Linked DNA regions of Homo sapiens: region 1 is linked to region 2. The links come from fine-mapping of genetic effects on gene expression. A gene starts in region 2. The other region holds a variant in brackets. All regions are shown on one strand. Distances are from middle to middle. Region 1 overlaps NFAM1 (NFAT activating protein with ITAM motif 1). Region 2 holds the start of NFAM1 (NFAT activating protein with ITAM motif 1).

What was found.
Region 1: its variant is fine-mapped to the expression of NFAM1 in whole blood (INTERVAL, PIP 0.96).

Annotation. Positions count from the first base shown.
Region 1 is chr22:42,378,176-42,386,494 of GRCh38, forward strand. NFAM1 (NFAT activating protein with ITAM motif 1) reads right to left here. Exons shown (of 6, transcript NM_145912.8): 6 at 2,232-7,045. The coding sequence ends at 6,986. Among named protein-coding and RNA genes, the nearest start is that of LINC01315, 13 kb to the left of the region's middle. The variant G/A (reference allele first, on the strand shown) is at 3,233.
Region 2 is chr22:42,427,221-42,435,539 of GRCh38, forward strand. It overlaps NFAM1 (NFAT activating protein with ITAM motif 1), which reads right to left and starts at 5,183. Exons shown (of 6, transcript NM_145912.8): 1 at 5,017-5,183. The coding sequence starts at 5,137.

The DNA of each region.
Region 1 (8,319 bases), 49 kb before region 2:
GGGAGACAGAGGTTGCAGTGAGCCAAGATTGCACCACAGCACTCCAGCCTGGGTGATAGGAGGGAAACCCTGTCTCAAAAAAAAAAAAAAAAAAAAAAAAAAAAAAAAGCCAAGCATAGTGGCTCACACCTGTAATCCCAGCATTTTGGGAGGCCGAGGTAGGTGGATTTCTTGAAGTCAGGAGTTTGAGACCAGCCTGGCCAATATGGTGAAACCCCATCTCCACTAAAAATACAAAAAAAATTAGCTGGGCCTGGTGGCACGTGCCTGTAGTCCCAGCTACTCGGGAGGCTGGGGCAGAAGAATTGCTTGAACCCAGGAGGTGGAGATTGCAGTGTGCCCAGATCACACCACTGCACTCCAGCCTGGGCCTCACAGAGAGACTCCATCTCAAAAAAAAAAAAAGAAAGAAAGAAAGAAGAAAAGAAAAAAAAAAGTGAAGGAGTGGTAGGAGTGGTAAGAGCCCTGAATGTGAGACTAAGGGGTTGAGCCCCGATCCTATGGACAGTGGAAACCACTGTGAGTTTTGGTATAGGGTGTGAGGTAGGGGTCATGTAGAGGTTTGGCTCTCCCAGCACCAATTGTTGAAAAGACTGTTCCCCATTGAATGATGGTGGCCCCCTTGTTGGAATGAATTGACCATTACCATAAGGTATGGCAGGCTTTTGAGAGAGGAATCATGTGGTCAGATATGTATTATAGAAAGATCAGGTGAGACTTGTTTGGACTGGGAATGGCTGGGAGGAGGAGGGGTTGGAGGGAGGCTCTTATGGGTGGACTTGATGGCAGGGGGACAGAAGGGGCATCTGGGGAGAAGAGACATCCCTGGATCAGCCCATGGCGGGCAGCAAGGTACAGGGCTATGTCCTGAGCCAAGGCCAGGATCTGGCCCACTTGGGCCTGTGGAACTCACTGGGGGATGGGGATGGGGCAGTCAAGGGAGAGACAGAGAAAATGCCCCCACTCCTCGGCCCCTCAAGGTCCTCAAAGTGGTAAAATAAAACCCACTCCAGATATAGCCATTTGCAAAGTCAGTTTTCAGGTAATGAAAGGATTGTAATGGAAAAACAATGCCAATTACAGCAGCATTATCCGGGATTATAAAGCTTCTAAGAGGCGGCTCACACCTCCAGGCATGCTGTGCCTGGGAATTTCCAGGGTAGACTTGGGATCAGAGCATACAGGCTGCCAGGATCCAGGCCTCACAGTGGGCGTGGGCTGCTGGGGAGGCCCAACCCCTGGGGCTCTATGGATCTGCCTCCATTTCCCCAAAGAGATAGAATACCGGGAGGCAGGAGGACCCCCCCAACTTCACACACACACACACACACACACACACACACACACACTTCTGAGAAATTGGATAAGAGGAATGTGAGGCTGCCAGCCCATCTCTGAAGGAAACCTGTTCTTCTGTGGGCTTCCCTACTCCTGGGGACACCACATCCCTCCATGGCTCTTTCTGCCTCCCCCATCACCTCCCCTACCTGGCCTTGGGGACAGCAGGACTGCACACATGCCCTTGGGGACAGCAGGACTGCACACACGCCGAGGCAGCCCAGCGTTGCTCCTCCTGGGCTGTGTGACCTGGAGCCAGTCAGCTGTTCTGAGTGGTAGCTTCTGCTTCGATAAAATGGGGAGATCACCCCTGCCCACCATCACAGACCTATTTTCAGGATTAAATGAAATATTCTAGATAAAGAGTCCGAGGAATAGAAACCAGTCCAACCTCGGGGCCTGGCGATTTGGTGGTGACTGTTAGAACAGTGAACTTCTATGCACTGGGTCCCAGGAATCCCTCCTCATTTCCCATAGGGAAAGTTTTGCAGATGTGTGTGTGTACAAGGATGTTCCCTGCAGCCCCTTATGTGAGGTTGAAAAATCATAAACAACTGAAAAGGCCTTCGATAGGGGGCCTGATTAAATTAGGATCCATCTGTCCTGCAGGATCCTTTGCTGTAATTGGAGTCTGGCAGCTCCTGTGTGCTGTCTCCGGCAGATCCCACCACGTGGGGCTGCATCAACAAAGCAAGTGCAAACAACACCTACAAAATGAATGCATCGCGGCTGTTCGGAAGCCCGCACGGCGCTCCACATTTTACATGTTCACAGGTAGACACCTAGATGCCATAAAAGCAGCGACGAAGAAAACACTCCCAAATGACCCGATTGGTTACTACTGGGGAGGGGACGGGTATGGAGGCTGGGAGGTGGCAGGTGCATCAGAGGAGTTTCACTTTGCTGTAGTTTTAATGTTTCACTGTAACATATGCTTCTGTCACCCACATATGTCACCTCCAGACACACACAAAACACACGCCAACACCAAGTTCAGAGAGTCTGGCCTGACCCGCGCTCAGTCAAGGCTGAGGCCATCATTCTGACCACAGGTCAGGGAAGGGAGACTGGGGAAGCCCCCTCAGGTGGACAAATGACATCCCCTGGCATTGCAAGGAATGGAGTGACGCCACTCAGCCTGGCTGGACTGAGCCAACGGCCCACCTCTCCTGCATAAGCTGTCTGCCAAGAAAACTATTGAACTACATAAAAATCCATCCCTGAAATCCCAGAGGCATCTTTAGAATGGAGCATGGACTTTACATTAGAATGTGCTTTAACAAAAAAAAAAAGAGAGAGAGAGAGAAAGAAAAAGGAAAAGCAGGTTTTGCCTGTAACTTGAGTTCAGGTTTGTGACACTGGGTGGCCAAAGAGCACTGCCTACCCTGGCCGAGGCCACCAGGCTCAGTTCCTGCAATATTGGCTGTGAAGGGAACCCCAGCCACACCGGGTTCAGCGCAGAACCAGCACATGTTCCCATGGAAACTCTGCTGCCAGAATCCCCTGGAAATGTTTGCTGAGGAGGGGCCACCGTTTACCGCACCCACTGCAAGTTCTGGACTGGTGGTAGAGGCTGGGCACAGACTGACCTCCAGAAGAAGTCCATGGGCCCTCTGCTAGGGTGGCACCAGACTTCCCTGGTCCCACAGGACAGCCAGTGGCCTCCTAGCTTAGTTCTGGGCCCCCGCCTGCAAGCACACGTGGCAAGGAGGGCTTCAGCAGGCTCGCAGAACCGAGTGGCAAGGCCCCTGCTCCCAGAAGCTGGTTTCCCAGGATGATTTTCTCAAGCAAGTGCTGACAGAGCAGGAGTCAAGCGGGGGTGGGGTTGGAGGCTGAAACCCATTGAAGGGGTCAACTTCCTAGAGGCAGGCAGGGATGCCTGGGGGTGCCAGAC[G/A]TGGCTGAGATGTTTCTGCAGAGGGGAGGTTGGGAAGACCTAGGAGGGCAGGGCAGGCTGGGCCGGGAGAGATGGTGGGAAATCCCACCAGGTCAGGGGCCAGTGGGCAGAGGGAAGCATCAGCTGAGACCCAGAGACAGGGCTGCCCTGCTGCGGTAGGGCCCAGGGGCAGGGGCCTGCAGGGGCTGCCTGGGGCTTCCCTTCCCCACCCTAACTCCAGTCCCCACTCAGGACTGCTCACATCCGTCCGTCCTGGAAGGTCCACAGCTCCCCTTCACCTAGGCCTCACCTACTCCACTCAAGCCACCCCATCCCCCTTAGCTTTTCCCCTCCAGGCCCATTCATTCAGCTCCTGCTAAGCCAGCACCCTCCTTCCCTCACCTCTCTGCTTACCTTGCTCCCACCCCCAGCTCTGGGCAGCCCTGGCCTGTCCATCTGATCGTGCTACCCCGTAGGCACTCCTTAAAGGCATGGCTGCAGAGAGCCTGGGCCCAGCTCCCAGGGAGGCCTGCCTCTCACTTAGACTCCTCTGTACTGCCCCAGAAGCCTATTCCTTCTGAAGGACGAGTCTTGAAGGAAATGCACACCCACTGAGCTTCTGCCTGAGCCAGGGAGTCCCCTTCTGTCCTTTCTGAGACACTGAGTAGTGTTTGTTTGTTTGTTTATTTGGACAGAGCGTGCTCTGTAGCCCAGGCTGGTGTGCAGTGGTGCCACTTCGGCTCACTGCAACCTCTGTCTCCCAGGTTCAAGAGATTCTCCTGCCTTAGCCTCTCGAGTAGCTGGGACTACAGGTGCGTGCCACCACACCAGGCTAATTTTTGTATTTTTAGTAGAGACGGGGTTTCACCACGTTGGCCAGGCTGGTCTCAAACTCCTGGCCTCAAGTGATCCACCCGCCTCGGCCTCCCAACATGCTGGGATTACAGGCATAAGCCACTACGCCTGGCCTGAGCTGTCTTGACTGTCACTGCAAACTGAGGCTCAGGTGGCCAGTGACTTGCCCAAGTCCACAAGGCTGTGGGAGGTGGAGCAGGGATTCAAGGGAGGCCCTGAGGCCACCCAGCCTGGGTGGGTCTCAAAAGCAATTTTCTTCTCTTCCCTCCTCCACCCATTCATAGTGGAAAGCAAGCCTGCACCCCAGGAGCTCCCATTCATACCCTCTCTGTCCCCTCTCTGTTCTTCCTCCTCCCGCCTGCCCCATGCACCTCCCACCCTGAAGTTCCCTGCCACCCCTCGCCCTGTGCCAGCTTGTCTCTGCAGGCTCTCAGTCCTGGGGGCTGGAGAACAGGTGCTCAGTCCTCTTTGCTGCCCACAGAAGTCTCAGAACATTCTTGCCCCACCCTCCCTTGGGCCAAAGCCCTTTAGGGTCCCGTCCTTTCATGCTGTGCTCTCCTCCTCCTCCTCCTCCTCCCTGCCTCTCTCCTTGCTCACTGAAGACCTCAGCACCCACTGCCTCCCAGCCTTGCCCTGAACCAAGCACAGACGACCACCACGCTGGCAATGTCTCTGTCCACCAGAGGGGTGATGGGTCAGCCCCCAAGAACCTCCTACGCCACAGGGAGGAGTTGGAATTTTATTCCAAGTGAGGCAAAAACCATGCAAGGTATAGAGCAGGGGAGGCCAAGGCCAGGTGTGGGTTTAATCGGGGTCTGTCGGTGGCAGGGCAGCTGCAGGGAGGCCGTGTTGGTGATGCCTGGGCCAGGGCACAGTGGTAAAGTTTAACCCAGGCTCCCCTGTCTACCCCTGAAAAAGACTGGAAAATGCTGAGTCCCAGCCAAGGGTCCAGGGTCTAGGAGCTGAGGTCAGAGAGGCCCAGGAGGTGGGGGAGGCAGGCCCAGTGAGGTGGCCCTCTCCTGGTCTTGCTGGCTTCGGTTTTCCCAGGGGAGCTCACTGCACCCTGAGCGGCATTGTCCCCCATTGCCCTGACCCTTGCCCCCACCTCCTTGGCTGGTGGAGCCAGGAGCCTGGGAGGCCCCTGTGCACACCTGGCAGCTTCACCTCCCCAAACAGGCCCGGAGTTCATTCAAATCCAGCCTCTGGGAGCAGGGGCCTTGCCACTCGGTTATGTGAGCCTGCTAAAGCCCTCCTTGCCATGTGTGCTTGCAGGCGGGGGCCCAGAACCAAGTTGGGAGGCCACTGGCTGTCCTGTGGGACCAGAGAAGTCTGGTGCCACCCTAGCAGGGCCAAGGGACTTCTTCTGGACGTCAGTCTGTGCCCAGCCTCTACCACCAGCTTTCCCTTCCCTGCAGGGAGGGGCATGACCTGCAGAACCAAAGGTGCTTCTGTGAGCCAGTAGCCCAGTGCTGCTTGGGGGCAGGGGCGGGGCCTGTGCCTTGGGTTCCCCCCCCTCCCTGGGCACATTTGGGGTTGGGGCAGCCCACACGGTGGGGTGGGAAGATTGACCTGCCCATTTTACAAATGAGCAAAGGTGGGAGAACTCAGGGAGACATGGGGGAGCAGAGGGAGGAAGCAGAGCCCAACAGCCCGGGGCACCCGGACCCCAGCCACTGCCTGCCTGTGGATGGGTTTCTGGCCACGGTGCAGGGCTACTGCGAGGAGGAAATGAGGGTGATGTGGGCACCTGAAACAGCAGAAATGGCTCAGGGCCAGGCACTGGGGAGCCACTGTCCCCATGGGGCTTGAGCTTCTGCCTCAGAGGGACCTTCCGGCTGCCATTGAGGGTCCCAGCACCAAACCCCACAGCTGGACCACTTGGGACCTCAATCCACAGGGGGCCAGGGCTGCGGCCTATGGCAGATAAAGATAGAGGAGGAGGGCTGGATGAAGCCACAGGTGGTGGGCACAGGATAGGCCAGACAGAAGGGACTTTGGGGGACTCCACCTTGGGTAGAAGGAGGGACAGCTGAGGTCCTGTGGTGGAGAAGGCCTGGAGCAGAGGGTGACCAAGGAGATGACAGAGTGCACGTACAGGGCCAGGCCAATGGGAGTGGGAACCCTTGGGAGAGGGAGCTTCAGGCCATTCATTCAGTTCCTGTTTAGCCAGCACCCTCCTCCCCTCATCTGTCCCTCTGCCCTCACCCCAACATGCCAGAATCTCCTTCCTCTCCAGCTTGTACCCAAGCCCTCTCTGCTCCATGCCCCCAGCCTGCTGACCACCTCTCAGCCATGTCCTGGGCCTCCAGATCTGTCCCTGATCCTAGTCTTGCCTCTGAGGGGTCCATCATCCTTGTCTGTCCCCCAGACCTCCCACGCCAGCCCCTGCTCCCACCCTGCCTGGCTGCCTCGTGCCTCTGGCCCAGCTGGGTAGGTAGGGATTTGCATAGCTGCTCCCCAGCTCCTCCATACCTCGGCTCCCCACACAGCACTGCTAGGCGCCCCTGCAGGGTCCTCCCTCAGCTCAGAGGCTGCCCTACTGGCTGAGGTGCAGGCTGGTGCCAAGAGAGCATGCTGCTCTGTCAGCATGAGGCAGTGAGCAGGGCTCTGGGCAAGGGTGGCATCCAGGAAAGCCCTTGAAGACTGAGGGGCGCTTTGCTGGTTGGGCCAAGGGAGGAAGGGCCTGCCTGGCAGAAGGAACAGCCTGGGCAAAGGCCCCAAGATGGGAAAGCCTTGGTGGTTGGGGCATAGAATGGGGGGGCAGTGGGGCCGGCCAAGACAGGAAGGGCCTTGAATGTGAGGGTGAAATGATGGGGTGTCCCTGGGGGCCTTACTCCCAACTCAGATCAAGTCCTTTGGTGGCAGGGGCTGCCCCGGTCCTCTGACCCAGGGCAAGCTCTATGAGCGGTGGAGCCCATCCTAGAGATTTTCATAGACCAGGTTAAGTTCGCCATCATCTTCGAATCTATGCGGTCTCTCCTGGATAGAAAAGAAGAAAGGGAGGGAAGGAGAGAAAGAGAGAGAATGACCATTAAGAATGAACTTGCACTAATTTAGTTTTAGCCAGAGGGCAACAGATCACTTCCTGTGTAGCTTTGATGGGGGGCCTGCCCTCTGTCTCCAAGCCCACCTCCCCAGCCTCTTCCCCCACCATGCTGCCCCCACCCCTGCCCATTGCCCTCCAGCCACATGGGCCTGCCCTTCCAGCCTCAGAGCTTCCCCCACAGCTCTGCCCTCTGCCTTCTGCCCTATGTGTGGGATGCGCCTCCTCCCACAGACACACCTGTTCCATGACTGCCCCCTACTCACTCTGCCTGCGGGCTCATCATAGGGTCCCAGGGACCCCCTCCCTCCCTCCCCACCCTGGCTGGTCCCTCCCAGAAGAACACCCCTCACAACAGGGCTACAAATGCCTCTGTGTGTCCATGGGGTCAGCGACCTATTCCTGCAGACTATGGCTCCCAGAGGGTAGGGACATGCCTAGTTCTCCTGTCCAGCACCCCAGGGCCTGGCACAGGGTGGGCACTGCCGGAGATGTCCCTGCTTTCACTCAGGGTCTAGTTGAGGGCTGAGTATAGAAAGGGCTTTGAGAACAGGCGATTTAACAAATAGTGCCAGCCCGAGCCAGAGAAGGCCAAGTGCCAGGCGCCCGCACTCCCTGACAGATGTTCCAAGAGGCCTGTGGGCTCCTGTTCTGGCTGAACAACGCCTCACGCTTGACGGTGCTGGAAGCTCTGGTGCAGATGTTATTCAGCTTGGAACACATTTGAATTCAGAGGCAGTTGGTATTGCAGGAAAACACTGCTCATCCACTTTACAGATGAGCAAACAGGTTTAAGAGAGAAAGTATGGGCCGGGCGCGGTGCCTCACACCTTTAATCCCAGCACTTTGGGAGGCTGAGGTGGGTGAATCATGAGGTCAGGAGTTCGAGACCAGCCTGGCCAACATGGTGAAAACCTGTCTGTACTAAAAACACAAAAAATTAGCTGGGCACAGGGGCGGGCGCCTGTAATCCCAGCTACTCGGGAGGCTGAGGCAGGAGAATTGCTTGAACCTGAGAAGTGGAGGTTGCAGTGAGCTGAGATCGCGCCACTGCACTCTGGCCTGGGTGATGGAGCAAGACTCTGTCTCAAAACAAAAACAAAAACAAACAAACACACACACACACACACACACACACACACAAAACAAAAACAAAAAAAAAGAGAGAAAGTATGATTGGGTAATATGCCTGAGGCCCTATCATGACAAT
Region 2 (8,319 bases):
AGCAGAGGGTCAGATCCTGCCTCCGGGTCCACATTTCCCCAGGATGCCTGTGTCCTCCCTCCCATTCACTACACAGGGGGTCTCATTACCCTACCAACGCTGGAGAGGAGCCAGGGCTCAGGGAGGGCAGAGGAAGGGCAGAGGACGACTACCCAGCCCTTCCATCTCCTCCCCCAGGCGCCCCTCCTGTGGCATCGCGTCTCCACCCTGCTCAGAGCTTAATTCATCCTTGATTGTCACCATTTCCTGAGCATCTGCTGGGTGCTGGTCCCGTGCTGGGAGTCAAGGATTAGAAGCCACATGAGTCCGCACAGTACCTTTTGATTTTTTCAACCACTTAAAAATATAAAAACCATTCATAACTCACAAGCCATACAAGAGGCAGTGGGCTGGGTTTAGCCCACCGGCCGTGGTTTCAACTCTTGCTCTATCTATAGCAACAAAACGAACTTCAGCCATATCGTGGACTGGATCTATCTTAAAAAACATAATGCTCAGTGAAAGAAGCGGGTCACCGGAGAATACACACAGTATCCTTCAATTACACAAAGTTCACAAACAGGCAAAGCTAGTCCATATGGTTTCGGGATGTGTACTAATGATAAAACTACAAAGAAATGCCAGTAAGTGATCCCCCCACAAGCTGGGATGGGGGTACCTTTGGTGGGGCACGGAGCGGGGCAGTGTCTGTGGGGCGAGGGGAGTAGAAGGGGCTCTGAGGCACTGGGATGTTCTCATTCTTGACCTGGTGAGAGTCACACAGGACTTTGTTTTCTAGTGCTTACCACGCAGCACTGCGGTTTTTGTGCGATAGTTCACCATGACAGAGGAGACAGCAGTGAGACAGGACCCGCTGGGAGTGTGCCCGGACCCCTACCTGAGGGGCATTTGTGATCCACCCAACCACAATCTGCATCCCACTCCTGTGTCAGACTTCCCCTGCCGTCAAGCTGAGCCTCTCCCGGCCCTCCTGGCCCTGCCTTTTGGGCTCTCAGCCCTCATTCCCTCAGCCACCTCCCGCTCTGTCCCCACTCCGCGGGCAGCCTTTCCAGCACTCCCCTGCCTCTCCCCGCCCACCTCTGCCTGTGCCTCGAAAGTCCTTTATTGGGATTTAGACAAAGATGAAAAACAGAGGCTACTCCTGACAGAGGTCCGGAGCGGCGGGAAGGGAGGCAGGAGGTCTCAGCCGGGAGCAGGCAGGGGCTCCTGAACATCTTTTTTTATTATTATTACTTTTTTGAGACAGAGTCCTGCTCTGTCACCCAGGCTGGAGTTCAGTGGCACGATCTCAGCTCAGTGCAGCCTCTGCCTCCCAGGTTCAAGCAATTCTCCTGCCTCAGCCTCCTGAGTAGCTGGGATTACAGGCGCACACCACCTGGATCCAGAACAAACTTGTCTGGTAACTCCGGCCAAGGCTCACGGTCCCACCAGGCTGAGAGTGGGGCCTATGGCTTGTTCACGTCTGGGTCCCTCTGGTGCCTAGAACCGGTCCTTTTCAATGGATATGTGAGAAATAAATACAGCCCAGAGTTCTGGAAAGGCCACAGAGAGGGGACTGACATTTGCAGAGGACACTAAGGTGCAGAGAGGTTAAGTAATTGCCTGAGGTCACACAGCTGTCACCAGAAGAAGGCAGGCCTGGAACTCAGGTCTGTCCAGCCCCAAAGTCCTTGGGGAGGACTGAGGCCCATGGAAGCTGAGTTGCAGCTGCTCCTGGAAAAGCCAAGCCCCCAGCAATTCCTGTCTTGGGGAGACCACCAGTGGCTGCCTTTGAGAAAAGCAGGCTTTGCAGAGGGGTCAAGAAGCCAGAGGACAGGCCCAAGTCCCGGCTCAAGTGGGAGGAGGAGGATGGCTGGGAGCAGGAGCAGGTACCCAGGATGAGCTGGAGGCCGTGGGCTCACCAACTGCACCTCAAGTTTCCATGGCTCTGGCGAGGCTGGCAGGTGGCTGACACTCACTGAGGACTAATGACATACTGGGCACTCAGTCCTCAGGATGTGTTTAGGCAGGCAGTGTTATCACATCCATTTAACAGAGGAGACAATTGAGGCATAGCGATAGAAGTAATCTGCCCAGGGTGCCTGGGCAAGTAGCAGAGCTCAAATTCAAACTGGGCCGGGTGCGGTGGCTCACGCCTGTAATCCCAGCACTTTGGGAGGCCAAGGTGGGGGGATCACCTGAGGTCAGGAGTTCGAGACCAGCCTGGCCAACACGGTGAAAACCTGACTCTACTAAAAATACAGAAATTAGCCAGGCATGGTGGTGGGTGCCTGCAATCCCAGCTACTCAGGAGGCTGAGGCAGGAGAATCGCTTGAACCTGGGAGGCGGAGGTTGCAGTAAGCCGAGATGGTGCCACTGCACTCCAGCCTGGGCAACAGAGCGAGACTCCGTCTCAAAATAAATAAATAAATAAAAAATCAAACTGAAGATGAATGCCCCTGGCCTGTACTCCTAAGCCAGCATCCTCTCGCAAGTTCAGGGATACGATGCAGAATCAGGGACGCTGGCCTTCAGTGACACCCCTGTGGACACAGCTGAGGGATGCAAGCTGGGTTGGTACTGACAGGTGGCAGAGCTGGTTGCACCAGGCTGATGGTTAAGGCTGATGGTTACGGTCAGGGGAGGTTTGGAAGATGTGGGAGGGGCAAGATTCCTTCCAGCAAACCCTCAAAGCTCTGAGACGAGAAGGCAGGGGTGTGACATGGAGTGACAGATAGATGAAGGGGGATGCACAGGGGTAGGACAAAGAGCGGGTTGGGGGTTGGGCACAGTGGCTCACGCCTGTAATCCCAGCACTTTGGGAGGCCAAGGCGGGTGGATCACCTGAGGTCAGGAGTTCGAGACCAGCCTGGGCAACACTGTGAGTCTCTATCTCTACGAAAAAATTTAAAAAATAGCTGGGTGTGGTGGCACACGCTGTGGTTCCAGTTATTCGGGAGGCTGAGGTGGGAGGATCATTTGAGTGAGGGAGGCAGAGGTTGTAGTGAGCTGAGATTGCACCACTGCACTCCAGCCTGGTGGACGGAGCGAGACCCTGTCTCAAAAAAATAAAAACAGGACGGGCACAGTGGCTCACGCCTGTAATCCCAGCACTTTGGGAGGCTGAGGCGGGCAGATCACCTGCGGTCAGGAGTTCAAGACCAGCCTGGCCAACATGGCAAAACTCTGTCTCTACTAAAAATACAAAAATTAGCTGGGCATGGTGGTGGGCACCTGTAGTGCCAGCTACTCGTGAGGCTGAGGCAGGAGAATCACTTGAACCCAGGAGGCAGAGGTTGCCGTGAACCAAGATGGCGCCATTGCACTTCAGCCTGAGTGACAAGAGTGAAACTCTCAAAAAAAAAAAAAAAAAAAAAAATCATGGGTGGGGGTTTGTCTGCTGCTCCAAGGGACTCTAGGACACCGTAAGGGTGTTTTCACCTCTTGTGAAAGAACAGTTTCTCTTTTATGTAATGTTTGTTGCAATACCGGGTGGGAGGGGGTGGCACTGGGAATGTTTTGTTATAGTTGAGACTGTTACAAAAGAGCTTTTCCCCAGTAGCACCCCATAAAACCTCTTACTGCTCGGTTACCAGGGTGTGCTGGGTGTCTTTTGGGGAGGAGGAACCACACAAAGGGAAAGGATGGGAATTGGGGGGAAATTAAATTAAAAATGACTGTAGTTGAGACACATTGACACTAACAGGCTGCATTTCCGGGGTCTGGCCGTGTTTGCACCAACTGTCTGGGGTGTGGGGCGAGGCGTGCACAGGATTAAAGGAGATGGTGTCCTAGGGCTCTGGGCTGCAGCCTGGGGAGGTACACACAGGTCAGCCTTTGCCTCCCCAGGGTAAGTTTCCGGTGAAGAACATTCTTTACAAGTAAGAGGATCCTCTGAGCCTACTGGCCGAGGGGCCCAGCTTGGGGCTGAGGCTGGCCTGGGGCTGAGGCTGGCCTCTACTTACCGGCTAGGTCTTGAGCAAACGAACTGGCTTCCCTGGGCCTCCTTTTCCCTGTCCTTAAAATGGTGCAGGTGAGGACAATAGGAGCCCCAAGGGGTGCTGTGAGGGTGGCCAGTACGTGCCCTGCTAAGGGCTCCATAAAGCCTAATTTGTGGTCATGAGAGGGGGTGCAGCAGGACAGGGTGGGGGCAGCTCTTGAAAGCCCCATAAACTAAGAGAATAGAAAGGAAGGCACCCTGTCTCCACAGTGGAGGCCACCCCTTTGGCCAGAGGGAGGGTTGGCTGCTGCCCGGCCAAGGAGGGGCAGAGAGAATCTGGCAGAATTCACTGAGCCCTCGTGCTGGCAGCCCTGGAATGGGACCCTCCTGGGCCGTCCCTGGCCTGATGAACTGGCCCTGAGGCTACCTACCCCACAGCTTGGCTCGGATCCCGGCCACCCAGCTTCCAAGAAAGCCTGGAACCAGGAAAGGAGCGCCGCTGGCGTGGAAAGACACACTTGCATCCTAAAACACTTGGCCTCTGGTTGTGTTTCAGGAACTGGGAGGTGAGACCCTTTCTGGTGACTGACAGTTTTGTGCCTCTGGGCGCAGAGCCCTGTGGCTGGCCCTGGTATCCCCCCCTCCCCCCTCTCCCCGCTCTCCCTGGCCAATGCCAGCAACAACCCAGAGGGTAGCCCCACCACTTGCCAGGTTCAACGCAGTGTCCCCCGCAGCAGCCACGTGAGGTTCCTCGGATGGGGAGCTGTCCCTCCCCCCTGCCCCGCCCCTGGCCCCAGCCACACAGCGCCCACCCTCCTTGTTTAAGGGCCAGGAGGCCAGACTGCTGGGGCAAAGCTGTCACAGCAGCGAGGGAGAGAGCGCTGTCCCCCTCCCCTTCAAAAGCCACCTTGGCAAGGCATTAGCTAAACATCTTCTCGGTCCCAGAAGGCTTCCCCTGTGAAGTCTGCAGCGTTCAAACGACAACCAGCAAATCCCCAGAGACAGGTCCCTGGGAATTAGCTGCGCCGGGCGGGATGAAAGCCGCTCTGATGTTCTGGAGCGAGAGAGTAGAGAGAAGGAGGAAGACAGACACTACCTGCCAGTCGCAGGGTCCCGGGCAGCAGCAGCACGCCAAGGAGGAGCCAGGGGGCTGCGGGGAGCCCAGGAGGGCGTGGGAGGCCTGGCAGGGCCCGCCACCTCACAGGCTGGTTCTCCATCTGGGGGCCTGCTTGTCTGCGGCGACTCTTTAGTTCACAGGAGGGGACGGCCGGCGCTGACAGCTTCCCCTTTGCTTTCCCCACGAAGCTCCTCCCTGGCAGCCCCTGACCTTCCGCTCAGAAGCAAAGCTGGAACAGCCCAGCAGGGTGGCCGCCAGATGAGGAACCTGGCACTGAGACTGGTCCAGGCCACACAACCAGAAGAAGAGCTGGAGACGGGACCCAAGCCTCCCCACTCCAACCCCTGGTGGGCTTCACCCTGTCTCGGCCCCTTTCCAGCAGGGGCCCCGTCCAGGAGACACTGGTAACTGTGCAGAGGGATCATGGGATTTCCATGAGTGACTTCGGGCCTTGGTTTAGCCTCTCACTTCTGAAACACTTTTAAAACGACCACAAGCATGTTCACACAAACTTCTCTAAAATATTCTGAGAATCCCTTAATAATGTGTTTACCAAAGGTAGGTTTTTTGGTGAGGGGTGGTAGGGAGGCTGGGGTGAAGGGCAGGAGCCTCATGTTCCCAGCCCTAGAGAGGGCCAAACACCCAGGGCAGGTGAAAGGCAGGCTGCCCATCATTCACCCAGCGAGAACCTCTGTGGGTCCCCTGCAGAGGCCCAGGAGACGCCTCCTCTCTGGTCCATCTCTAACGTCAGCTCCTCCCTGTGGCTGCCCTAAAGCTTAGCTCACTCGGCCTCCCAACTGTGAGACCCTCGAACTGCTTCCCCATTGGCTGCAGGTCACAGCCCCTGCTCTCACTTCTAGCAGCATCAGCCGGGGACAGGAATTGTTTGCTGCCGGGACCCCCTTCCCCAGCAGACTGGGAGCCCCTCACCCTTGGCACCCACACATCTGCCTGCGTGTCTGGAGTGGCAGAGGAAAGGGGCTGGGGTGTGGTGATGGCTGGTGGAGCTGGAGGCACCTGGTACATGGAAGACGCAGGCGGGAAGGTGGCTGAGTTTCAGCGCATGCTGAGCGCTTACCTCCCTTCTCTGCAGGTGTCCCTTCACTCACCAGATAAATGTGATGATCCCAGTTGTACAAAAGAGAAGACCTCGGCCCCAGGAGGCAAAACAACATGCCTAGGATCAGGGCAGGTCTGTGGGGCGGGCATTTGAACTGCCAGTGGTATGATGTCCGAGCCTTCTCCCACCCTGCTACTGCCTGCTCAGGTGTGTCCAGCTGCAGCCCCCGGTGACGGCATCATGAGATCCATTTCAGTTCTTTGCACACATGCTTTTCCCTGGGCTGCTCCAAACATGAACAGTGAAAGCCTAAAGACGTTTCCACCAATGCCACGAGCACTGGGAGGCTGGCAAGAGCAGGGGCCGCCCACCAGGGGAGGAAGACATATGAACAGGAGAAGTTTCCTACCGCGCAGGGGGCAGGCGGGGACCCCAGTGTTATTGACTGTTGATCCATCACAGTGATACATGCTCACATATGTCACAGTGAGATGCAGACCCGCTGCTTCACGCTATTCCTGGCTCCTGGGAGTAGCAGGTTGTCTAAGCACCTTGATGCCATGGTGATAGACCTCGTGTCAATGCCTCAGGGTACACGGGGAGCATTGGAAAAGCATCGGTCTGTGCCTCTACAAGTCTCATTACGACTTGGCACTGGGAGGCAGCTGAATGCCAAACTGCCTCGGAACAAGGGAGCCTGCTCTTCCAGCCCTGGTGCCGCCTCCGCTCCTGCCCCTGTGCCAGCTCACTGACCCTACCTCTCAGCCTGTCACGGTGCCCCCCACACCCCAACTCTGTACCTCGGACTCCCGGGAGTTCTGCCGCCTCTGAGTCTGGGTCTAGCCTGCTGCACACCTGGTTTCCACGCTTGCCTGCCTGAGCTGCCTGTCTTCCTCCCCTCTCCTTCTTGAGCCTGGCCCAGGGGGTGCAGGAATGGACGGATGGGTGAGCATAAGGCAGGGAGAAGCCTTCCTCCAGGCTTGATATGAAGGCAGGTGCCCAACACCACGCTGGTGCACAAGAGGCCTCAAGGGAAGGGGTAGCCTCTGGGAGGCAGGGTGGGAGGAGGCGTGCATACTCCCCAGGCAGGCCCTGGGCTGTGGAGCGCAGACATGACTGGACAAGAAGCAGCTGAGGGTCCCAGCTCATTGCCCAGTTTCTGAGACGCTCTGCAGCCACGCAGCCTCCTGGGGAGAGGCAGGGACGCACCTTGGCAAGGAGCCCAGCAGCCCTGGCTGCGCTGTCGGGGCCTCGTGTCTGGCCCTGATCCTCCTCGGGAGCCAGGGGGATAGAAATAAAACCGCAGCGCATCCAGGAGCCTCATTTCTACCAAAACTTTCTAGCACCTCTCATGTGCTTCCTCTCCTGTGCCCTCAGCCAGAGCTGTGAATAAACAGTAAAGGCCCCAAAGGCTGAAGGCGGAGCAGAGGAATGAGGAGGCTCTGTGGGTGTCCCAGGGGCAGCTTCAGTGGCACAGCCTTCGAGCTAGGCCTTGGCAGCTGAATTTGCAGGTGAGGTCCCTGGGGACCACACGTCTCAGCCACTGGCTTTTGCCCAGACCTCCGTCCATTCCCCGTTTATCCGTGCATCTATGCCTCACAGTATACTGAACACCTGCCCTGCCCTGGGCCCTGGCCTCACGGAGGCTGTAGAAGTGAAAGAGCCTAGCCTCCCTGGGAAGCCTAGGGGCACGGCAACCTCAGCAGAGTGAAGCAATAATAGAGCAGTTCCGGGAAGCTTCCAAGCGCCTGACACTGCTCCAGGGGACCTGCTCTCCTTGCCAGTTTAATCCTCACTGCAGCCCTATGGGGCAGGCACTCTAATCACCTCCATTGTACAGATGAGGAAACTGAGGAACAGGGAGGTTAAAGTAATTTCTGAGTGGCAGCCCTGAAGGAGGTGGAAGCTGGGTGGGGAAATGGGGGAGCCCAGGTGTCCCCTGCAGTCCCCAGGGGCCTCCTCGACACCAAGACTAAGGCTTTCCAAATGAGACCACAATTACTGGCCTCTGTTTTCTTTTTCTTTTCTTTCTTTTTTTTTTTTTTTTGAGACAGAATTTTTCTCTTGTTGCCCAGGCTGGAGTGCAATGGCGCGATCTCGGCTCACCGTAAACTCTGCCTCCCGGGTTCAAGTGATTCTCCTGCCTCAGCCTCCCGAGTAGCTGGGATTACAGGCATGTGCCACCACGCCCGGCTAATTTTGTATTTTTAGTAGAGATGGCA